Linked DNA regions of Homo sapiens. The protein of the gene in region 7 interacts with the protein of the main gene of each other region in a biochemical or structural test. Each region holds a gene or a part of one and is shown on either strand. Other genes may lie near its edges.

Evidence for each region.
Region 1: the proteins of DLG2 (region 7) and SHROOM4 interact in a test that uses a peptide from one of them, tested with the Homo sapiens proteins (one large-scale study listed by IntAct).
Region 2: the proteins of DLG2 (region 7) and TMEM178A interact in a test that uses a peptide from one of them, tested with the Homo sapiens proteins (one large-scale study listed by IntAct).
Region 3: the proteins of DLG2 (region 7) and DGKZ interact in a test that uses a peptide from one of them, tested with the Homo sapiens proteins (one large-scale study listed by IntAct).
Region 4: the proteins of DLG2 (region 7) and PDGFRB interact in a test that uses a peptide from one of them, tested with the Homo sapiens proteins (one large-scale study listed by IntAct).
Region 5: the proteins of DLG2 (region 7) and CLDN19 interact in a test that uses a peptide from one of them, tested with the Homo sapiens proteins (one large-scale study listed by IntAct).
Region 6: the proteins of DLG2 (region 7) and RPS6KA1 interact in a test that uses a peptide from one of them, tested with the Homo sapiens proteins (one large-scale study listed by IntAct).

What each region holds. Positions count from the first base shown.
Region 1 is NC_000023.11:50,811,395-50,815,615, forward strand, and holds the start of SHROOM4 (protein Shroom4), read right to left. Parts: upstream 2,801-4,221; 5' UTR 2,625-2,800; coding exon 2,508-2,624; intron 1-2,507. UniProt on the Homo sapiens protein: Probable regulator of cytoskeletal architecture that plays an important role in development. May regulate cellular and cytoskeletal architecture by modulating the spatial distribution of myosin II.
Region 2 is NC_000002.12:39,714,417-39,717,916, reverse strand, and holds part of TMEM178A (transmembrane protein 178A isoform 1 precursor), read right to left. Parts: exon of another isoform or gene 2,655-3,500; intron 908-2,654; coding exon 666-907; 3' UTR 1-665. UniProt on the Homo sapiens protein: Acts as a negative regulator of osteoclast differentiation in basal and inflammatory conditions by regulating TNFSF11-induced Ca (2+) fluxes, thereby controlling the induction of NFATC1.
Region 3 is NC_000011.10:46,353,963-46,357,462, reverse strand, and holds part of DGKZ (diacylglycerol kinase zeta), read right to left. Parts: intron 1-3,500. UniProt on the Homo sapiens protein: Diacylglycerol kinase that converts diacylglycerol/DAG into phosphatidic acid/phosphatidate/PA and regulates the respective levels of these two bioactive lipids.
Region 4 is NC_000005.10:150,135,346-150,138,845, forward strand, and holds part of PDGFRB (platelet-derived growth factor receptor beta isoform 1 precursor), read right to left. Parts: intron 1,709-3,500; 5' UTR 1,703-1,708; coding exon 1,663-1,702; intron 534-1,662; coding exon 210-533; intron 1-209. UniProt on the Homo sapiens protein: Tyrosine-protein kinase that acts as a cell-surface receptor for homodimeric PDGFB and PDGFD and for heterodimers formed by PDGFA and PDGFB, and plays an essential role in the regulation of embryonic development, cell proliferation, survival, differentiation, chemotaxis and migration.
Region 5 is NC_000001.11:42,732,593-42,734,914, forward strand, and holds the end of CLDN19 (claudin-19), read right to left. Parts: 3' UTR 501-2,322; downstream 1-500. UniProt on the Homo sapiens protein: Forms paracellular channels: coassembles with CLDN16 into tight junction strands with cation-selective channels through the strands, conveying epithelial permeability in a process known as paracellular tight junction permeability.
Region 6 is NC_000001.11:26,536,261-26,539,760, reverse strand, and holds part of RPS6KA1 (ribosomal protein S6 kinase alpha-1), read right to left. Parts: intron 2,837-3,500; coding exon 2,792-2,836; intron 1-2,791. UniProt on the Homo sapiens protein: Serine/threonine-protein kinase that acts downstream of ERK (MAPK1/ERK2 and MAPK3/ERK1) signaling and mediates mitogenic and stress-induced activation of the transcription factors CREB1, ETV1/ER81 and NR4A1/NUR77, regulates translation through RPS6 and EIF4B phosphorylation, and mediates cellular proliferation, survival, and differentiation by modulating mTOR signaling and repressing pro-apoptotic function of BAD and DAPK1.
Region 7 is NC_000011.10:83,454,673-83,458,008, forward strand, and holds the end of DLG2 (disks large homolog 2), read right to left. Parts: 3' UTR 501-3,336; downstream 1-500. UniProt on the Homo sapiens protein: Required for perception of chronic pain through NMDA receptor signaling. Regulates surface expression of NMDA receptors in dorsal horn neurons of the spinal cord.

The DNA.
Region 1 (4,221 bases), on a different chromosome or scaffold from region 7:
GCCTAGACCCAGGTAGGGCAAGTGATATACCTAGGATTCCAGAACTAGAGAGTGGCAGAAAAAGGATTAGAACCCAAGTTTTTAATCTGCCAACCCAATTATCTTTCTATTACCTTCCACCCATCCCAACCAGTGTGTACAGACTAAGAAGGCTGTTTTCAAGGAGAAAGCTGTATTGTTCTGAATCATAAAAGGAAATAAAATCAAGGTTGAAAAATGAAGAGGGAATTAATGAAATATGCCAAAACAGTGTCTTGTCAAGAAAAACACAATACAGGCAATCATTGTGCTTAAAAAAATACTATGGTCCCTTTATATACCGTTGAAGCCAACCCAGTTATAACTGACTTTTACTGTTAAGAACTAGGCTATTTGGGAGGAATGGGAGAAATAATTTTATCCCTTGCATATCTAAATGCATGTCATAATGAGCCTTCATATAATAGGGGTCAACTGTACATTCAGTGGAAAGGGAATCATTAAAAGGCACCCTGCCTCTCAACACACGAAGCACTTCCTCTACAGCTTGGCCAAGGAAACCCTCATCTACCCTCTCAAATAATCCCCCAGCCAGACCACAAATTGCTGGCTGCCCCATACTTAGTAACACCCCCTGCCATGCTCTCACTGGCTCACAAAATAATCCGGGACCACAGCAGCAAGCACTCTCTGGGGTGCTTCTCAAGATGGGTCAGCTCTGGGCAGAGCTGAAAAATGACCTCTCCAAGGCAGGTTGTCTAGGCAGACTGTGGAAATTCTGTGGGCGGTGTGAGGAGAAAAAGAAAGGGAGGAACTGCCAGATCATGGAGGGCTGCATATCCCATTGTGACCTTGGTGGAAAGAGTGGGGAGAGGAGGAGCTTGATTAGAAGAAATTCCTGAAGGCCAGGATTCCCCTCACCAAAGGAGTTGAGTGTTTTTGTTAAAAAAAAAAAAAAAAAAAAAAAGCATATAACTTTCTCCAGAGAACACTGGAGGGAGACTGCCTCAGGAGGGGTTGTGACAGTGGATGACAAACGCATCTCAGGCTGGTTAAAGTACATGACAAGTATGGGGGAAAGGGTGCTGGATGAAGATCTGGGCTAGTTTGGGGAGGCTAATGATCAGAGGGGTCCCTGCCAGCCCCTCAAAATGTTGCCTCAGCATACCTCAGACTCCTCAATCTGATTGGTACACCCATGGCAACACTCCAGGGTTGCTAAGAGTGTGGGCCCCAAGGCCTGAAGGATCCCATACACTGGAAGTCAACCACAGGCTCCAATGCAAGGCGAATGCCGCACAGGTTATTGTGGGTGTGTGTTGCGGTGGACGTTTGCTGAACCCTCTGCTGAGATGTGACCAATGTTGAACCCCACCCCCCCGCAAAAAAAAAGTGATATTTGCTCCCTGCTGAAAAGACACATCTTTCTATCTCCAGCCTGAACCCACATCTACAACTTCAACTGCCATTTAAGCGGGTTGGAAGCGGGAGGGCTTTTCGGATTTGAGGATTTAAGAGAAACAACAAAAAAGTGGAATAAAGTTCGTAAAGTCCGTTCACTTGGCAATCTGGCACCTCAAGGTGAGTCGTCCCACAAGTCACTCTTCCTGGTAACAGCTCCAGCTGCCCCTACCCCTCGCCCTCACCCCTACGGGGGAGGCTCGCTTTGGGGGTTCTGGAGCACTCAGGAGAGCTCCTCTCTCCTGTCCTCAGCTGCAACTTGGCTTCCAGCAGATCACAGACTCCTAAAACAAACAAACCCTGGCGGCGGCGGCGGCGGCGGCAGTGGCGGCGGCGGCGGCGGCGGCGGCGGCAGCGGCAGCAGCAACAGCAGTAGCTCCAGCACAGCTGCGCTCCATGGCGCAAGTTTCCTCCACACTTCTCAACGTGCAGGAAATCTCGCCGGCGCTGGGGCAGGACTCTGGAGGGAGGGAGAGGCCGAGCCGAACCGGCGGCAACAACGCCCCAAGAGCTGAATGGATGTGTGCGCGTCCGGCCGTGGGAAGTGTGGCTGGCAAAAGCCACCAATGGCCTCATCTCCGTTCCCACACCAGCCCCTAGCCCTGCAACCTGCCTGGGAGGGACGGCCCGCCGGTCGATAGAGGGGACAACGCTGCCAAGAGAGCTGCCAAGCCGCGATGACTGTCCCTTCAGTCCTTCACTGTCCCGCAGGGACGCAGAGGCCTCCAAGGAGAAATCCCCAACAGCCTCCACTTCCTTCGGCCCAAACTGAGGGAAGTAGCCGCCCCGACGTGGGGCAGCAAGGGCTGCCCCAGCGCCCTCGCGAGTGTGTCTGCGCGCAAGGTTCTAGCCGGGGGCCAGTTGTGCTCCCAGCTCGTGTTCCAGCCACCCTTAGGGGATGTCTGCACCTGGACTGGTGGCAAGACCCCTCCGTGCCGCTCAGAGGGTCTTTCGCTCCCAGCCCTAAGTTTCAAAGTTGGCCTGAGGGCCCCGTCCAGCGGCAGCCTTCGCACCCGCTTGTCCATTCAAAGTTAGGCGCCGTTAGGACATCAGCCGCCAGTTCTTACCTTAGACACTGTGAGCGGCTCACAGTGTTCCAGACCCCCCTTAAGGGTGAAGCCCCAGGGTGCCCCCCCTTGCAGCTGCACAGGGACGTACTGGAAGGACCCAGGCCGGTTCTCCATCCTCGGCTGGGCTCAGGCGCCGCCGGGCTCCTTTTCCGAGGGGGCTACGTTGCCTCCGCCCCCAGCAGCTCCGCCACCATCGCCCTCCAGCTCTACGCCACCCCGCACCGCCCTGCTCCGCCTACTCTCCCGGCTGGAGACGCTCAGGCAGCGAGCGAGCGCAAGGAGGAAATGACACGGAGCTGGAGAAAGGGGGAGAGAGGGGGGAAAAGGAGAAGGGAAAAAAAGAAAAGAAAAGAAAGAAGGAGAGGCGGAGGGATAGCGCGTAATGGACAAGAAAACGGAGCAATGGGGAGGGGCAGTCACTGGGACCTCGCCTATAGGATCGCTGGGGAGTGGGAGCGAGGCGAGGCCTCACATCAATTGTTACATTGTTTCATTCAAGCAGGGCCCCTCTTTGGTCCTCCTCTTTACTGCCGGGTTCCCCGCCCCTCCAGCCAGCCCAGGCGAGGGGAGGTGAAAGTCGTTAGTGTGGACGGCCCGCGTGGCTGAGTGGGCTGAAACGCTGGTTTCCTGATTAGCGCGTTCATGTTTCTCTGACTGCCTTTTTCTTCTGAAGGTCCCGAGAACGGAGACCTGGGAGGGTTAAAAGGCTGCTAATTTGTGGACCTTGCCTAGAGGGGTGGAAAGCAAAGCCAGCAGGCCAGCGGACATAGTGAGGCTGTGTGTGTAGACTGCTCTGTGTGTACGCGCTAGGTGTGTGGGGTCATTATGAAACATTGCCCCAGAGCATAGTTTAAATAAAGAAGCACTTTGAGGATGCCCCCTGCTCGGGCTCCCCCGCACCCTGGCTCAGTGTTGGTGTCTATGGCTAGCACTGTGCTTGTGTATGTTCCAGTCATCTGGAGTTCCTGGCACGGCCTTGCACTTGCCCCACCGAGATGAGCAAGCCAGCAATCAGCAAACTTTATGACTAGCAGTATTGTCTCTAAACAAACCTACAGGAAAGAGCATCCATTGATAAGCTGGCCAATTAATAATGTTGTGCCTTTGGGAAGAATCAGCTTTTAGACTGGGTCCAGAACATCTCTGCACATCTGTTCAAGCTTGACCTTGTAGTTTCTGAGCTGGGCTTTTGTAATAGACCAAACAGCCACAATAATAGTCCTGAAAAGCGAATTTGTTACTGAATCTTGTGCTGATTTCTCTGCCTTCACTTGGACAGGTTATCTTCTCTCTTTGAGGTGTTTTCTCTGGAGCCACATGCGGGCAGTGAATTTTTAAAGGGCCTCGCACTAGCGGAGAAAGTGTTGACAACTCAGTTGTGACTCAACAGGATGTTCCCACTCTGTCTCGCCTGTTCAGTTTCTTCCCCTGTTCTTGTGCAGCTTCTTCTTCATGGCCAACAAACACACTGCGGCCCCTTCCTTCACAGCCAGCTTTCTGCGGTCAAGGTTTCCACTCTCTACTTCTACTTCCTCACCTGTCACTGCCTCTTCAACGCACAGCAGCCTGCGGTGTGCTGCAGCAGGCCACTGAAATGTCTCTCAAAGTCACCCCCCTCCATCAATCCTTTTTTCTTAGCACCCCCCTGGACTGTCTGCATATATGATGCTGCCCTGACTTTTCTTTAATAAAATGGCAATTTAGGTGTTTA
Region 2 (3,500 bases), on a different chromosome or scaffold from region 7:
AGACAGAGGTTGAACAACAGGTCTTCAAACAATACTGCATAGTGTCACGAGTTAGCTCTTAAGCACGTTTGATCTGTTTATCTTATGATTTCGATTCCAGTACAAAGACAGAGAAGAGACTTAAAAAAAAAAAAACAATAAGGCAACAGAAGAAGAATCTTCCTGTGACAAGGAACGTCCACAAATAATGCACAAATATTTGGTGCTGACACAATAAGACACCATCAGGACAAGTTCTGAAGATGCTGCATTAAAATTTAACAAGCATGATACAATGACAAGAAAATTATACTCGCTTTGTTACGAATCCTTTTGCAAGTAGAAATGACTCTCGGGTAATTGTTACATACAAACTTTCTGAAATAAATGGAAATCATACAAATTTTTCCATTGCAGTTTCTTCTTTCTCTACACCTAGAAATGTCCCATGGCACTGCTCCCTATTCTCACAGTCAACGCATAAATAGTCATTAAAGCACTTGAATCCACAGTAGTCTTGTCCTTAGAAAGGTTGGGAGGTTTTGCATGATTTTCTATCAGTAATCCAGAAAGGGCTGGCAGGCAACAGGTTGGAATGTAAAAGACCGCTTTGTGCTTGGACTCCTGAACTCCGCGCTGTTCCCCTCAGGAGTCGCTCGCACTGTGGACAGGCCCAGTGAGGACAGTCATACCGTGGAGTCTCTGCCAGACTTTAGCTGTGCAATCTTGGTCCGGCTAATAAACGGATAAGCGATGCAGAGACCTCCAGCTGCCACAATAAAGCCTAAACTGCACCAGGCGCAAAAGATGGACCAGCTGTAACCATGTTCCACATCAGCAGGCAGGCTATAAATTAGCTTTGGGAGCCGGTTCAAATCATACGAGATACTGGCGGCATAAGTACAGAGGGAAATGGTGCAAAATATCCCTATAAATAATACAAAGAGAACAGAATGATTAGTTACAGTTTGCCTGTTACAAGACAAATGCCAGACAGGCCTTTATGAAAATCAGATCAACCACTGAGGCAGTCACTCCAAATTCACAAATGATCCATAATTATTTTACTTGAATTAATTCATATAACAAACATTGGCAAAACTTCTGTGTGCCAGACCCTACACTAGGGAATGGAGATGCAGGAGTGAAAGAGACAGGAAAATTCTGATAACCTGAATTATTCAGAATTATCTAATTCAAATGGTTATATATATTGGAATTCTTTTTTTATTCTTAAAAACAATAAAAGTTCTATTTTTAAGAGAAAAACTTCTATAATCACTCAAATCAAGCACAAAATAGTTTTCATTTTCCTTCGCTCTCCACCTAATTTCATACAGTTATTCTGTTGTAATCGTTATACAACATCTGCTTTCTTTTTCAATTAACATTATCATAAATATTTATCATGTTGCCTTAAATAATATTTTAGATGAAGTCATACAAGTAGCTAAATCTTTTTTGTTAAGGCACAGTCTTACATATACCATATGATGTAAAATAGCTGAGCAAGGAGATCATCCATTTCAACCATTCAAAATGGAGGCAATTGGAGTGACATAAGGAACATGGACAGACCCAAAACTTTGCTTTTTAGACCAATCCATGTGTGTGTAATTTTCCTTCTGCAACACTAAAATCAGGACTGATTTTAAAAATACTTCATAAGCCCCAAACACAGGATTTTTAGTACTCAATTCATGTGGATATAGGTGCTTCTATTCCACCGCAATGGACCCTCAAGATGCTCCTTTTGGATAGGCAGAGGATCAGAGTGTGGTGAGTAATAAAAACAGAAACTGGCACCCAATCAAGTATCAGAATGTCCAGTTCTGTTCTGAATCCTACACATCTCTTCTTCATAGTCTGGTTTATCCCTGTATACAACAGAGACAACATTTATTGACTGGAAAATTCCTTTGGCATCCTTAGGGATACACGTAGCATCTCCACTGGAAACAGAGACACAGATTTTGAAACTGAAAAGAGAGAGCTAAAAGTAGCAGATTACCTCTCCAACCCATTCAAAGCTCCCCGCCCTCTACCCACCACCCTTTTTTAACCTATAGCTTTGGAGATTAGAAATGCTAGCAGAAAAACAAATTCAGGGCAGGCAGCAATTTGGAGGAAATAAAGACCACCTTAATGCCATCTTTAAAATGTTAGAATTCTGCCTCCATTCAAATCATGTAAGAGCACGTTGCCTGAATCCGCTTCCAAATGTGCACTTAGACAATAAATGTTCTAAATTAAAAGGACACTGGATCTGAGATAATTTGATATTTCCTACTCTTTGCTTAATTCTGCATTTAAACTCTAAAGTGATTCTGTTTTACTAAAAAGGATAAAATCTTTTCTTCTGACTTCTTGCTCCAATTTATTACAGCAAACATATCACTTTGAGTTCTCAAAGAGAAAAATCAAGATGGAAATAATTCTCTCATAAAGTAATGGGCCATTCAAAAAAGAATACTCCACTTTTCTCAAACCTTGTGAAAAGCAAATGTTCTTAGATCTACACAAATGTTTTCACTGGCACCAAAACAAAGGCAGTTTTTATATATAACAAAGCCCTTTTAATAAATGCTGGTAATAGAACAATAGGCAGTTAGAAAAAATAATCTTTGGAGCATCAACAAGTAAAATAGAATAATAGAACAATGACCTCTTCACAGGAAAAACAACTTTATTCTGCATTTAGCTGTTTGCACATAGCTGAATGCCTAAAAGCAAGCATTTTTACAAGTAACATTGTTTTAATGACCTATGAAAGCTTGAGTTCAAACCTAGACTTTTAAGCATCCTTTCATGTCCAAGTGCATTGGGTTGGGATGTGAGAAATAAGTATTCTAGTTTCCAGCTCTACTAAACACTGTGCAAACTTGAAATTACCTAACCTCTCTGAGCCTTGGTTTCTTCATCTAGGGAAAAAAAGAGTGGGAAACTTGATTACTGAAGTCCCTAAGAGTGTCAAATTTCTGTGATTCTGTTATTCCAAAATGAAACATGAAACAAGAATATTTATTAAAACTTCCTAGTGAATCTAGTACTCAGCTTATGCAATTAAATGAAAATGGAATGTCCTATGTATCTATCTTTCTGTATATACTCCCTCTGATTTTACACTTAACATTTCTTTCATTAGCTCCTCTCCCCTGCCAACCCCATAAAATTGCTTTTGATGACATGAATTCTATCATTAAACCACCGGTTCATACTGAATAGAAAAGAATTACAAGAAACAATCTAATCTGGGGATTTAACCAGAATGATTTCTCTCTGCTCTCAGTGTCATGGATGTTTGTGCTTTTCCTGGGGAATTGATTTGTGCTTACCTCATGGACACTGTGAATGATGTCATTAACAGAATTTTTCTTTATCCAAGTTGCCAGAGCACTGAAGCTCCCTAAAGCTAAATCTGTAGCCCACCATGAGCAAAAGTATGGGATTTCATGGCATGCTTTTGGCTTCTAATCTCACTCTTGGATCCATCTTGCCTCAGAAACCTGATTGTCCCTTTG
Region 3 (3,500 bases), about 37 Mb from region 7:
TGGGTACAAGGGGATGGCAACAGCCTTGGTTTGGGTGGCCACCTTCCTCTCCTCTCTAGAGGACCCCAAGAGTGACACCTGGAGGCCCCTTTCTGGGCTGGATGCTATCGCCCGCTCCATGTTCTCCATGGCTTTCTCATGAAAACTAGATAGTCGGTTTGGTGACATGAAGTCACAAGGGGAGGGTGGTGGGCAAGGAAAGGGGAGGAGGGGCTGTCTCAGAGGCTTGGGGGCTAGGCGGGGATCCTAAGCTGGCCTGAGCTCCTTGGTGAAATACCCCCAGTCTCTTCTTTCACATCCGAGTCCCTGACTCAGCCCCTGCTAGGCCTCAAAGAGATGTTTGCGCAACAAATGACCAACCCATTCCTTTAGTGCCTCCCTCCAAGCCAGACTCCCGCTGCCATCAGAATTCATCCTAAAGCACCCAATCACCTTTTACTGACTCTACTGTCAGCTGAGCAAAATGCAAAGACCTGGGGCTGGCAGGCAACAGGCCTCCCAGCCTCCTCTCTGCTCTTTCATATTTTTAATGCTGTATTTGACACTTACATAACTCACTCCACCAGACACTACTCTAAGTGTTTTTACAAATATTAAGCTACGAATCCTCCTAAGAATAGTTGGTATTCTTATCCCCATGGCCCGTATCCTCATATTGCAGATGAGGAAACTGAGAGACAAAGCGGTTAAGTCATTTGCCTGAAGTCGTCCAGCTAACATGTGGCAGTGCTGGGGTTTGAACTCAGTAGTGTGTTCCATGGCACATACCCTCGACCCCTCAGGCTCCACCCTGGATGCTTCTGGCAAACAAAACACCGCGGGTCCCTTTTCCACGTGGCACCACGTGGCATCCGGTGGTCTCCCTACCTGGAATACCACTCCCCTCTCTACTCAGTGAATTCTCCCTCATGGTTTTCCTCTCAGACCCTGGGCAATCAGCACTAATGTGCAAATCTGCATCCCCGGACAGGCTGTGAGCCCCAGGGCCTCACATTGCTTCTAATGGCATCCCCAGAGTGTAGAAGTGCTGGGTGTGGTTTGAAGAGTGAGTGGAGGGAACAGCGCATGGTCTGGACTCAGCCTCATGGATCCCGCTGACAGCACAGGCTTCAGGTGGGCACAGAGCCCCAGGAGTGGGCCAGCTCCCGAGAACTTCCTGCTGCACTGGGTGGACAAGTCTGGTCTGGGCTGAGCTCTGGTGTCTCAGAGGCAACACTGAAACCGATCCCTGATGGGAATGCCAATATATCTCCCTTAGCCTCCCAAAGGGGCCCCTTTGTTATAAACCCCTCGCGGGCCCCCACTCTTCTCTGGTGACCGTCCCATCCTTGTCTTCTCCTGTGTCTGCAGAGGGCTCCCATTCCCCATCTGCTGGGAGAAGCATTTCCCCCTCACCCCTCATTCAATATTAACACCCTGGCCGGGCGGGTGGCTCATGCCTGTAATCCCAGCACTTTGGGAGGCTGAGGCGGGCAGATCACCTGAGGTCAGGAGCTCGAGACCAGCTTGACCAACATGGAGAAACTCCATCTCTACTAAAAATACAAAATTAGCCGGGTGTGGTGGCCCATGCCTGTAATCCCAGCTACTTGGGAGGCTGAGGCAGGTGAATCGCTTGAACCTCAGAGGCAGGGGTTGCGGTGAGCCGAGACCGCGCCATTGCGCTCCAACCTGGGCAACAAGAGCAAAACTCCATCTCAAAAAAAGAAAAAAAAAAAATTTAACACCTCCCCCCTCAACTTTCTGACCATGTTGCTCCCTCCCCCATCAGCCCCCAGGGCCCCACCCCACTCTCCAGGCTTCCACACTACTCACACAGGGGACAAAGGCCTTCACAGTAGGTTTAGCTTCAAAGGCCCAGAGGATCTGCCTCTGACCAGCTACATGACCTCAAGCTAAGCCTTTTAACCTGCCTCAGCCTCAGTTTCCTGATCTGATAAATAGGGCTAATGCCCACCCTCGTCTCTCTCAAGGGAGTGTTGCAGGCTTGAAGGAGAAAGTGTTTGTTCCTGGGAAACAATTCCCCAGTTTACTGAAAGTTTTAAGAAAGAAAATAGCCGGGCGCGGTGGCTCATGCCTGTAATCCCAGCACTTTGGGAGGCTGAGGCGGGCGGATCACGAGGTCGGGAGATCGAGACCATCCTGGCTAACATGGCGAAACCCCGTCTCTACTAAAAATACAAAAAATTAGCCGGGCGTGGTGGCGGGCGCCTGTAGTCCCAGCTACTTGGGAGGCTGAGGCAGGAGAATGGCCTGAACCCGGGAGGCAGAGCTGGCAGTGAGCCGAGATCGCACCACTGCACTCTAGCCTGGGCGAGAGTGAGACTCTGTCTCAAAAAAATAAAATAAAATAAAAAAATAAACACAGAGGCCTAAAAATTAGGACAACTACTTCGGAGCACAATTTGGCAACATCTGTCTAAGCTGAAAATACACAGACCCTGTGAGCAAGCACTGGTGGAGAGAACACAGAGGGATCGCTTGCAATAGCGAAAAACTGCACACCACCCAAGTGTCCGTCAACAGAGCCTGGGCAAATAAGCTGCTGTTACACAATGGAATCGGACGTGGAGGTTAAAATGGATCCGTGAGAATTCATGTTTAGGATGGTTAAATCTCCAAAACAATATTGAGGGAAAAACCTAAATGCAGAATATGCCTGGTATACCATTTAAACCAGAGTAAAATCATACGAAACAGCACTGTATGTTGCTAGGCATGAATACCTATGTAGGACAATTTTAAAAACAGGCACAAGAACATCACACACACCAAAATCAGAATTGTGGTTTCCTCCAGGGAGTAAGACACAGGGGCCTCCATCTCTATCTAAAGCAAATATGGCCTAATGCTAAGCTCCAACCAAGCTAGGCAGTAGGTGTCACCTTATTCTGCACACTTTTCTAACGCCAAGATATTTAATGTGTTTAGAAAGATTTCAAAATCATTTCTTAAAAAGACTCCAGAGGCTGGGCACAGTGGCTCAGGCCTGTAATCTCAGCAACTCAGGAGGCCAAGGTGGGAGGATCACTTAAGGCCAGGAGTTCGAGACCAACCTGGGCAACATAGCAGGACCTCGTCTCTACAAAAGAAAGAAAGAAAGAAAAAATGAGCCCGGTATGGGGGCCCCCACCTATAGTCCTAGCTACTCGGGAGGCTGAGGTGGAAGGATTGCTTGAGCCTAGGGGTTTGAAATTACAGTGAGCTATGATTGTGCCACTGCACTCCAGCCTGGGTGACAGAGGGAGATCCTGTGTCCTACAAAAGACCCCTTGAGGGAGACCAGCCCCCTAGAGCTCCCTGGGTCTACCAGGGATGGTTTTGGCAGCCTGTCCCTCACCCTTTCAGGGCCCTCAGGATGGAAGGAAGGTCTCCCCCAAGGGGATGCCTTCCAGAGGTGGGTGGGTGGTGGCAGGCTGTGTCAGTGGGGTGTCCGTGTGGGTTGGGGAGCAAGAACCAGCTTGCCCCCTTTCACAACCGCCCCCGCCTCTCTCTGTAAA
Region 4 (3,500 bases), on a different chromosome or scaffold from region 7:
ATAGGGTGACTGGCAGGGAGCAGGCAGATCACCCAGACCAAGGAGTGGGTGCGAACACACTCCCCGACTGAGCCAGGCTGGTTCCATGATTGTCTGCTTTTCTAGGATGGCTGCATTTCACAATAAACTAAAGCACTCTCTGGACTTCCCCTGATGCCTCCAGTTGACAAGAGGGGTAAGGAGTGGGCACACAGGCTGGGAGCCCTTACCTGGCACAAAGATGTAGAGCCGTTTCCGCTCATCGGTCTCCAGTCCACGGGAGTCATTGTGGGTGCAAAAGTATTCTCCCGTGTCTAGCCCAGTGAGGTTGGTCAGTGTGAGCACGCTGGAGAAGGTGCCATCCTGGGCCTTGGCCATTTCCTGTGGGGGCTCCTGGGACATCCGTTCCCACACCACCGGAGCTGAACCCGAGCAGGTCAGAACGAAGGTGCTGGAGACATTGAGGACAAGCTCTGGCCCCGGGGGTGTGACGACCAGGCCCTGAGAGATCTGTGGTTCCAGAAGTAACAGGAGAGACAGCAACAGCAGCTCGCCTTTGGGAGAGGAGGTATCAGACATCAGGAAACAGGGGCTTCAGCACCTCTCCCAAGGCTGAGCCTGCGAGGAGGCCACGTATGCACAGCCCTCAGGTCCTTGAGGAGCACAGCTCCTTTATCCGACAGACTGGGGCTCTCCAGCCATGGCTCTGAGGACCGCTCGCCCAGCTCCAAGGCCCCAGGGATTCCTCTGGACTGCCTCTGTCAGTCCCGTTAGACCCCAGCCTCTGAGTCCTTCAGCAGTGCCATGTGTAGGCAGTAGGCACCAGAAGGGGCCAGGAAATCCTCGGGAAGCAATTCCCTGGCCTCCAGTTCCTGCATTGCTTCCCAGGTCACTTTCTGAGCCTCTTCCCTACAGCTCTCTGCCCCCTCCCCCGACTGCCCAGGTTCTGCCCAAGGCCCAGAGGTGGCTCTGGGTGGGAGAGAGATGGGAGGGAGGGGCTTAGGTAGCTCAGAGGGGGGCCAGAAAAGATGCTGAGGCCCTTTTGGGCTGGAGGGAACTGGGGTTGGGGGTGTGTGTGTGTCAAGTGATTGGTCCCCCTCCACGACATCCCCTGGAGAAGGATTTTTCAGGCCACGCCCTCCATGCCCCCTGGTGATACAGATCAGGAGGGGAGGTGGGCGGTCAGGCAGCCAGTCCATCTTATGGCCAGCTGCCGGGCAGGCTGCTGGCTGGTCATTAATTGCTGGGTCAGTCGCTCAGCCCCTGCAGAGCTGAAGACATGTTAACGGGCAGGAGTGAGGGGTGGGGTGTGCTGAGAAGCCCAGCAGGGACCTGGAAGCTCCCAGCCAATGAGGGGTCCAAGCCGAGTGCCACAGATCCACCAGACCGAGGATAGGAGGCCAGGGGTGTGGGCCAGAAGGTGGGATGGGGTCTGGAGGGCCAATCAAAGGATTTGAGCTGATGGTTCTGGACAAGCAGGGGCCCACTGACGCTTTCTGAGCTGAAGGGCTGGCAGCTGGAGGCCTCCACAGAGCCCACTGGAAATCCTGAAAACTAAAGCTGAAGGGCAGGGCAGTGTGCCTGGTGCTTCACGCCCTGCCACCAGCACACATCACCCCTGCCAGCTCCAGGGTTCCACTCCGCAGCCCCCCGGGTCCCCTACCTTATCTCCCATCTACCCACCTTTGAGGGCCAGAGCTGGCATCGCACCCGGAAGCCGCATGGTGTCCTGCAGAGTTAAACAGGAGTCAGGGCCCAGGGCAGGTGGAGGCAGCGACAGGGGCTATCTCACCACCTGGCTCCTGCAGAATGAGCCCCAGCTTGGGCCACCCAGCCTTCATGTCCGAGGGGCTGAAGTCAAAAGCCACCACGTCCCAAGCCTGAAAGGGCACTCATGACCACAGGCTGTCTCCTCTCCATCCCGGACTTAGCCTTGGGGTCCTGGCCTTTGCTTTGGCTCTGCTTGTGACTCTCACGTGGCCTCGGCTGCGTCCCCAGACTCTCTCTGTGCCTTAGTTTCCCTGTCTGTACAGTGAGGGAGGGGAAGTTGGGCTGGATGGTATCCAGTAGCCTACCAGCTCTGACAGCCTGTCCTCCGGGTGACAGTTCCAATACCAGGCTCTTATCTGCCAGGACAAATATTTGGGAAAGTGTGATGAAAGGGATGGGAGGAGGAGGGGGGAGGCCAGAACCCAGAGAACTCCCGCAGCTCCACAAGCACAACAGGAAATGGAGGAGGCTGTGGGCTGTGGGAAGGGAAGCCGGGGAGCCGGGGCTGTGGAATGTGGGAGGTGGGCCTGGACACCTTTACTCAGCCCAGAGCATACAGGGAGGCCCAGGGGACAGCGGCTAGGGGCTGGGCCCAGGAGAGGTCCCATCGAGCAGCCAGGCCTCACAGGTCCTTGGAGACCAGTGAAGCCAGGCTCCCCCCACCCCCACCCCCAGGGTGCAGATGGGGAAACTGAGGCTCTGAGAAGGTGAGAAGTTTACCCAAGATTCCACAGCAGAGCCTGTCTGAGAGGGAGACAGAGAGAAAGAGACCTGGAATGATAGAAGTAGAAAGAGACAAAGACACAGAGACAGAGAGGAGGTGCCCAGAGAGACAGCACCAGAGGCACTAAGAGACAGAAGCAAGGACAAAGACAGAGACAGAAGCAAGGACAAAGACAGAGACAGAAGCAAGGACAAAGACAGAGACAGAAGCAAGGACAAAGACAGAGACAGACTGAATGGGGTGGCCCTTGCTCTCCTCTATCTTGGAAGACACACCTCAGGTCCCAAGAGACCACCAGGAGCCAAGTATGCCAAGAGTCTGCCTGCAGCATTGGCAGGAAGGACGCCAGAGGACAGGGGTCGCAGAGCATGAGCTTTGGGAGGTGACGGCATGATGAGGCAACAAGGAGCCTCCTCTGGCTGTGGGGCTGCCCAGCCTGGCCTGCCTCTGAAGGCCATGCCCAGCTTGCCCCTACCTCCCCATCTCACCCCTTTTAGTTTTCAGTTTAGGTCTGCAGACCGGGTTCAGGCCCCAGCATGCCACCTCTTGTGCCATCGCTCTCCCTGTGGCCTAAGTCCCCAGCTCTGGAAGTGGATGATGGTGAGTACCTCACCTACCAGGGCTGCATTCACATGTCAGGGGTGGGACATAGGCAAGGCTCCTCCCGCCTATGGACCCCCAATCTTAGCTCTTCCCAACACCCCAAGAAACAGTCTGAGCAAATCAGCTCTTCTCCTCCCTCCTCCCTTTCAGACTGCCTGCCTGAAGGTCTCCTCGTTTCTTCCTCTCCCCTCTCTGAACTGCTCCTGACTCAAAGCCCAGCCCTTCTGACGCCCCCTCCAGCCTCTGCTCCCCACCATTCCTCTGCCCCAGCCCCTCCAGCTGGATGCCAGGCCTCCTTGGTCAGGAGGGAGCAGCGCCAAGGCGGAGCCAGCAGCCCCCACAGAGGCCCATCTGCCCCTCCGTCGGTGCCCCTCTGGCTGCCCCCTTCCTGCTAGAGATCTCAGCCAAAGAAAATCATTAGCAG
Region 5 (2,322 bases), on a different chromosome or scaffold from region 7:
CAAATCCTGTTAGGTAGGGCTCTTCTGGCTGTGTGGGACAGGATTCAAACTCAACGTTTTTTCAGCCAAAAGGGGAATTGATTGGGAAGATGTGGGCGTGTCACAGAACAGCCTGGTATTGGGAAAGGCAGGAGTGAGTGGGGCTTCCTCTCCCCACCTCTTTTCTTTCTTTCTTTTTTGAGATGGAGTCTTGCTCTGTTGCCCAGGCTGGAGTGCAGTGGCACAATCTTGGCTCACTGCAGCTTTCGCCTCCTGAGTTCAAGCAATTCTCCTGCCTCAGCCTCCCGAGTAGCTGGGATTACAGGTGCCCACCACCACAGCCGGCTAATTTTTGTATTTTTTAAAAATAGAGACAGGGTTTCACCATGTTGGCCAGGCTGGTCTCGAACTCCTGACCTTGTGACCCACCCACCTCAGCCTCCCAAAGTGTTGGGATTACAGGCATGAGCCGCCACGCCCGGCTACCCACCTCTTTTCTTTTCTTTTTTTTTTTTTTTTTTGTGATGGAGTCTTGCTCTGTCATCCAGGATGGTGTGCAGTGGCACGATCTTGGCTGACTGCAACCTCCACCTCCCGAGTTCAAGCGATTCTCCTGCCTCAGCCTCCCGAGTAGCTGGGATTACAGGTGCCCACCACCACAGCCAGCTAATTTTTGTATTTTTAATAGACACGGGGTTTTACCATATTGGCCAGGCTAGTCTCGAACTCCTGACTTCAGGTATCTACCCACCTCGGCCTCCCAAAGTGCTGGGATTACAAGCGTGAGCCACCGTGCCTGACCTCCACCTCTTCCCTTGTGGGTTCTTTTCTCCCTCTGCAGACCTCACAGAGTCACCTGGGCTTGAGGCCTCATAGAGGAGCCCTCAGTGCTGACCACACACTACAGTCCCCTGAGGAGCTACATGACTTCTGATGCCAGGTCCACCCAGACCAATGAAATAAGAGTGTCTGGGGTTGGAGCCTAGGCATTGTGCCCCCAGGTGATTCGAATGTGCATGCAGGGTTGGGAACCATTGCACTATAGCTTCAGGCACCCAGAGGAGAAACTCCTGCAGTTCTCATTCATTAGAGGGGCAGGACTCTGGGGAACCTATTTAGGGTCAGGTGGCCACATCCTCTGACCAGAGGCTGGACAAGTCCCTGTTGTGCCCCGGTGGATGTGCAGCACCGGCCAGGCCAGGCGCCGAGGGGTCAGTCCCCCAGCAGCTCCCTGCCATTTGTGTCATTCCTCCCCTCCCTGCCCTTGACTGCAGTGTACATGGCAGTCATCTCATCTGACTTGGTTTCCGTCACTTTCCCTCTCAGAGTCAAGCTCGAAGGAGAAGCTGAGCTGCGTTCTTGAGATCTGGGGACGTGGTGGGAGATGTGGTCACAAGGCAGGTGGTGGAGGAGGCCAGAATGGAGCTGGCCAAGGAAGGTGCGTGGCAGGGAAGGGGAGGTTCTGTGATGGATGCTTTCCCCAGAAGCCTGATACGCAGTGGCCAGGGAGACTGAGTCCCGGGAGAGGGTTTGGGGTGGGAGAGGTCTGAGCATGAGGGGCAGGGCACACTCTGGTTCAGGGAGATGTAGGACAAAGGACTCTGGCCTTGGGACTGATCTGGGCTGGTTTCCTTACATTCCTCTCAGGCCCTTCCCCCTGTATGCTAAGGGGGGATGGTACCTGGACTTCAAGACCAAAAGCCCTTCTCTGACCGCACTGCTGAGTGCAGCAGGCAGCTCCACCCACAGTCTCTGGGCAGCCCCAGGCTGTCCCCTCCCCACTCTGATTCTAGGACAAAGACCTTGGACCTCAGCTGGATGCTGGGGATCAGGAGAGGAGGAATGGTAGGTGTGGAAACAAGGGGCAGGATTCGGGGTGAGCAGAGCTGGGGGCTGCAGACCTTGCTCAGGACAGTCCTAATGCCTGCAAGCTCCTAACGCCCTCCCCACATTCCCTTTTCTACATGGGGAGCTCCTACACTGTGTCCCCTCACCTATCGCTGATCCCCAGCATCCAGCTGGAGGGCCTTCCAGGAACTGTCCCTTCCCTTAGGAGGTCTCTGGAGCACAGTAACAGGGGCAGGGTTTACTACCTTGGGGCCTCTTTCCACACCAGGGGCTCCCTGACCCTGGGGACTGCTCCTAGAGCTGGGCCAAGCCTCAGGGGCAGCCTCCAGGAGTGAGTGGGATCTCCTATCAAGGAGGACTTTGTGCCAAGGCCAAGGCCAGGCTTGGGAGGGGGGTCCCTAGACAGAGGGTAGGACCTCTGAATTATTTCTTGCTTAGCCCTGGATGTGCTATGTAACCCACCCTGGACCTCTGTCTCCTCATCTTTCTGCCCAA
Region 6 (3,500 bases), on a different chromosome or scaffold from region 7:
CTAGGTGCTGAGGGGATCCAGAGAGTTCTCACCCTGGATGGCTATCCACACTATTGCTGCTAAAAGCCAAATCCCAAATCCCAAATCCCGCTTTCTGCCTGAAATGAATAAAATAAACAAGCATTAAACAGCAACATTGTGCCACAAGCCCTGTTAGATACTTTAATTTATATGTACCACATTCTCTTTTCCAGGTAGCCCTGAGAAATAGGCTTTATTCTCCTTTCATTTTTCAGGAAAGAACCCGAGCCTCAGCAAGGCAAATGACTTGCCCAAGGTTACAAGGCAAATAAAAAATAGGTGCAGGATTCTGAACTCAGAATCCCTGACTCTCTTCCCTGCCTCTTTGCCACCTGGAAGGCCCAATTCTTTCTCCAGCTGCCCAAATCCTGCCTTTTGAGTCCCAGCCAAATGCCAGTTCCGCAGGGAACATGGCCTGTGCCCTAGAGCCCACCCCAACTCTTCTTCCTCGGCCATGCACGGCAATGACCATGTCTCTGGTCCACACTCAGCCCTGAACTCAGATGCCATCAGCTGGGTTCCCGGGGACGTGCTCATCTCGTCATGCTACGGAGAGAAATGTGGGCACCTGGAAGGTGGTGGTATACGTCTCTGCCCAACATGGGCCTAGCACAGAGCAGAGGTTCTATGTGCCCACAGCTGTGCTCTTGCCCCATCATAGCGCCTACCACATGGCTTTCCTGTCTCTACCCTCTGCCCAAAGATTGGAAGCTTCTCGAAGGTGGGGGATATTGACTTCATTTTAGGCCCTCCTGTGAACAACAGGGTGCACCGAATGTCTGATTAGGATAAAGTGGCCCATTGCCAGCTCATTCCACTGCACAAAGTGATGAGGTCCGGACCACAGGTTGAGCGCCCCCTGGTGTATTAAGCCCAGAAGTGGGCATTAGGGACACTGGTGGCTGGGACAACAGATGGATGAGCAGGTGCCCAGGACTGGTCCCACTTGGAATCACAGAAAGCCAGTGCTCCTCCTCTTCAGCACTCAGGGTTCTCTGGACTATGAGGAATGACCTTGAAGCCAAACAAGACTTGTCTTCATTGCCCACCAGCTATGTGATGTTGAACCTCAATTTTCTCATCTGTAAAATGGGGACAGTAACAATCTACCTCCAAGGATGTAGTTAGAACTAAATGCAAAGCACCTGGTATGATGCTAGGCATAGGTTAAGCTCTTTCTCTTCCTTAAGTGGCATTCGAGACTCCATGTCCCATCCATCTCCAGCCCTGTCTCTCTTCCTACCCCAGGATCTTCTGCTCTAGAGCAAGAGTCATAGGCTTGGGAGCAAAAGGTTACCTGCCTCGGCAAGCTCCTGCCATCTCCCAGTAAGCTCCTCCAGTTCTTGAGGTGAGAAGCTGTACTCAGCACAGGTCCCTAAATGCTGCAAGCTCCTCTGCAACCCCCAGAACCTCAGCCCTGAGATCTGAACACCGTGTTTCTTCACTGGGAACCTACAGTTCTTCATTTTGTTACTAGGCAACAAGAGGTAGCTACTTTGTGGGAGGAGATTCTGCAGACATGGGCTGAGCTAAACCAAGGGGCCCAGTCCACACTATTTACTGGCCTCTGCTGGTCCAAGGTTGCCACAGCAACCCACAGAGAAGTGGTGCGAGAATACTTCCCTCACCTGCCCTATCCTACCCAGCTCAGTCACCTCATCTTAGGAAGCTGAGTCAAGGTAAACATCAGGACTAATCCTGCATCCATCTCAAAGGTCAAGCTTATGGCAGGTCTGGTGTTCAAGCCAACCTAGGTCTGGAAGGTGGGGTCACTGGCAGGAAGCTGAGCTGAGCAATATACTAGGACATTTTCGGTGCTGGCACCGAAGCTGCCATGTGCCAGGCAGTTACTATCTCATCGTCCTTCACATTGCTCCTGTGAGACAGACACTGTTTCCCCAACTTACAGCTCAGGAAACTGAGACTCAGAAGGGAGAAGAGCTTCTGGTTAAATGGTGGGGATGGAGCCAGGACTGGAACCCGGATTTGCTCTAACACCATGCTCTGTCCCTGCCTAAGCAGCTTCCAAAGACCCTCCATAGCCAGCATCTCCTGTGACCTCACAGCCACCCTGTGAAGGGGATGTGGTCTTTTCCAATATACAGATGAGAAAGCCAAGGCCCAGAGTGTACAAGGAACCTCCCCAAGGTCACACCACTGTCACCTAGTCCTGGTGCTTCTGGCAAAACACAAAACCAGCAACAGGGGCTAGGGGGCTACAGGAAGGGGCCCAGGGGAAGCAGAGATAGCAGGGGTGAGGGAATGACCCTCACACTGGGAAGTGGAAGCCCTAAGAAATGCCATGAGTGCCACATGCCAGGCAATGGGCCTGGTTAGCCTTGAGCGGCCACCAGCACCCCCTTTCCAGCTCACGTGCCCAGATGCTCACTTCCAGGCTCTTGGCAAGCGCAGCTCTACCAAAAGGAGCAGGACAGCTGGCCTGAGCCCCTCCCATCACTCCTTAGAGCCAGCCCAAATTCCATGAGTAAATAAACTGCAGGGGCATCCTGGCCTGGGTGACAGGTAACCAGAGCCCTGACCTGGATTCTGCTCCTGACCCTTTCTGGGCCACAGTCGCCTCACCTACAAAATAGGAAGGTTGGAACAAGTGATTTCTATGCCCAGGGTTGCCACAAGGATTCGGTGGGCCCTGAGAAGGACGGCTGAGTTGGGCAAAGGGGCTAGAGGCTGGAGCCCTCAACCTCCTCCAAAGCCATGCAAACAGGATCCCCCACAGCCCCTCGCTCAGGGTGCTGGCCATGGTCCTCACCTTGGACGGCTGAAGTCCAGCTTCTTCCCCTGAGGTCTGTCCATTCTGGAAAAGAGAAAGGAGATTGGGGGAGCACTGTCAGAACTTACACGCTTGGGAGAAAGACTCTGTGGGGCACCCCCACCCTTAGGTGCTCCCAATAGCCATGGAGGCCATGGTGGTAGGGCAGGAGTCCTGGGTGGGTCCCTCCACCTCCACTTTCATGGTGTAGGCACAGGGACCAAGTATTCTGGCAATGGCGCCTCATGACTCAGGCAGAATATTCCCAGGGACCAGCATTCTGACCCTCATGCTGTCTGCCTGGCAAACACTTCATCTCTGAAGACTTAGTTCAAATGTCACCTCCTCCCAGGGAGAAGGGAAGGGTCATGTGTGGCTTCCAGCTCTACCAGATACAAACCTTGTACAAACTAGTCAACTGTGAGAGGACTCAGTTTCCCCATCTGTAACATGGGGTGGGGTAGTTACACTGACTTCCCAGAGTTGCTGCAAGGGTGGAAGGAGACAAAGTCTGGGAAAGCATGCAACCCAGAGATGGTGGCTATCCTTGCCCTGCCCCACTCTGGGACCCCTCCCCTGACCTTGCCAGGCAGAATGACTGCTGCCTCCACTTCAGCCTTCATTGTAGCACTTGTCCCACTGCAGGGACTATTTACACACAGGCCTGCCCTTCCTAATAAATGGGGAGTCCCACGAGGGCAGAGACGAG
Region 7 (3,336 bases):
ATTTTTCTGTATCCTTAATATCTTCTGGAATCCCACAGTTTGACACTGGGAAATTGATTTTTCCCCTCACATAGCTGTGAGCATCTTTAAAAATCTATCTTTTAATACATTGTTCACTTTTGGAAAAATCCCGATTAAAAGCAGGCAAGATGGTAACCAAATATTTAAGAATATGCAAAAACAGCACTTTCACTTCCTCTCAGCAGTGCCAATACTTCTCAGGGCATACCCACCCTAATTGCATTTTAGCTCTGGAATCAGAGACAAAATTGATAAAAATAGACATGAGTGATTCTATTCCTTATGAAATAAGACAAATTATGCTTTGGGAGAAAATCATTTGCCATAAAGTATAAAATGTTTTAATATTTATATCTTATAATAAAACCATGACATGTTTATAAACACTCTATCAGGCATTTTTACAATGGGGCCACCCACCGCTGACAACTAGAAACGCAATAAATATGCACAGACACACTGAGTATGAAATATACATCTTGATTTTATAATCGTGTGTGCTTTATTTTTTACACAAATGGAATGGAAGTGTTGAATATTTACACTTAACAGGAGTGTAAGCTGTGCAGTGTCTCTGTAAACTCCAGCCTAGGCAAGGAGTATTCCCACCTCCCTCCCATCCTGTGCTACAGCTCGGTGGAGAAACATCCTGTCAGAGAGAAGCACAAAACTGTCATATTGAAAGGATCTAACGGGTACAGCCTGGTGCACTCAGAAGTTAAGAAACACTTAGGAAACACAAACTCAAAAAGGAGAGAAGAAAAGTCTGCCATCCCATTGGGAGTCAACCTTGCCACTTGGTTGTCTGTCCTCATGAGTTGCTAGGGAGATACTATACTCTTTAGATGATCTTTGTCTAAATTGTCCGCCTGTCTTAGCTTTGTCCTCAGCTGTTACAAGAAACTGCACAGCTGTACAAGAAATGATTTCCAAAGCACAGGTTTCAGTGAGGAAGGATATTTACAGACTTGAGTGTGTGTGTGTGTTTCCAACCACAGTCATTCATACTCAATGTAACGTGTGTACATGGTATACATACCATATATACCATACATACACAGAAGTAAAATGTATATCACAGAATTCTGTAGGGAGTCCCCTGGCAAGTCAGCTGTCACAGGAGGTACTCCACATGCTTCAAGGGAATTGATCTTTTTCCCTCTAGGAGTAACAAATTAATGTGATCAACTTAGGAATTAGCCTGAGTCCTTGGCTTAAATATATTTGTAGGAATTTAGGCAGGACCAAGACAGGAAAGAAGAGATTTCATTTCACCAGCAAGTCCATTCAGTCTCACCAGAGCAATCACCAGCTGAAAAGCAGAGGGGGCTTCACATAAAAATGGGAAAAAGAAAGCTTATGAATGGGAAAAAAATGTCTCTCTCCAAACCAAGGTGATGGCATGGCTTCAATGAGGAGGAAGAGGTTTGCTATCAGAATAATTGGGGCCAGAGTCTGCCTTTATTGAAAGAAAATGTCCTCAGAGCCATGCGGTAGTGCTGGGAGTGGGCTCGCTTAGGAGCAGTGTTCAGGCAGAGGCACTCAGGCGCCGGCAGGGCCCACAGCACATGCATCATCGCTGCCAGGGCAACGGTGCAGGCTGGCTCCGGGAGGCGGGCTGGAGCAGGCTCCAGGTCAGGGCCTCACGCTCAGCTTTACTTTCTGGGCTGAGTAGGTGAAACGGCGACCTAAAGTATTTGTGTCATTAGTCCAGTGCATGGACTTGCTGTCTGAATCAGCCATGAGCCCTTTAGAGGACAGAAAAATCAATACAGGGATGTACGGGAGAAGATGATCAGAGATTTGAGGAGAGGAGAAAGGACAGAAGAGGAATAAGAAGGGCAGAGAAACAGAGACTAAAGGAGAGGTGGACAAAAAGAGAAAGGGAATAGAGAAGGATTATAGGAGAAAGTCAACAACTCAGAGATGGTGGGAAGGAGGAATAGGAAAAGGAGAGGAACAAAAAAAAAAAGAGATGGAATTAGTCGGAAGTAGAAGGAGGAGGAGAGTAAGGAAAAGAATGAGAAAAAAAGTAGAGTCTCGAGCCAGAGGTTGGAGAGTTCTTTCCTGGCTCGGAGTCCTGAAGGGCCGGCAGTAGGATCTAAGACAGCGCACAGAGGCACCCGAGTGCAGCTTTGTGAAGACAGGCTCTTTAAGCAGACAGAGCCAACCCAAGAATTTGGGGCTGGGAAAAAAGGCCTGCAAATAAATAGCCAAGAAATCCCGCAAAAGGCCTGCAAATAAATGGCCGACAATTCTGTGGGAGGAGAGCAAAAAACAAATGCCTCTGCACTTAGCTGACAAATGGAATTTTGATTTTGGTAAAGCTGAGACCCCCGTGGTGCTACACATTGTACCAGAGCATGAAAAATAGCACCAGTTACACGATCTGGCACTTTTCTGAAAGGGCCCAGCATGTGTGAAGGTGACATTGCACCCCCAGCAAGCCTTCAGGTTGGAGAGAGCTCTGGACAAAGTTTGCAGTGTTAGCACCAGTCTGGCCCCAGGCTCCGAGTGCATTTGCACCAGATGTAATCTGGGTAACTTTCATGCCATTTCCATACAAGTCATCAGATTTGCTGCAAAATACACCAGTTCATTGGAGCCATAGAGACATCAACATTGGGAAGTGCAAGACAACACAACAAATGGAGGTGTAAATTCTATTGGAAAAGACCCTCTCACCAATTTGCTTGGTGATTCTTCAAGCAAATATATATGTATCTATATATTTATATAAATCTACATAAAAAAATCAGTGCAAATGCCAATTCTAATCTGAAAGCATCTACACTAGGAAAATAAATAGTTATATTACTACAAAACCAAGGGTTGGTGGTTCAATTTGATTGTACTTAGCCACAGCAACACTAGTAAATGGAAAGCACATCACACGACCCGCGAAAACATCTACTCATTAATGACAGTCTTTTAAATAAATGGTTGCATGCTCAGTTGAGAAACCAAAGAAGTTATCGTGGTGGCCTAAAAATAGAGCTGGGATCAGGAATGGCATTCTGGTGTCAGAAAACTTCTGGGAGCAATATTGATGAAAGTAGGCCTTGACCTGAAACTGGCGAATTGCAGACATGGACATATCTTTAACATTTTGAGCAATCTAAGGAAGTCTCTGGAAATTTAACTTTCATGAGAGGGAGAATGCATTGCTAGCCCTTCCATTGGCAAAGGAAGCCTCAGGACTATGGGAAGATGCATAATTTTGCATTTCTGTTTTGTTTTGGTGACTGTAGCCAGGCAGACAATGATGTTTAGCGTAAGATGAACAATGCCTGTTTTTGGAAAGAGACTCTCATT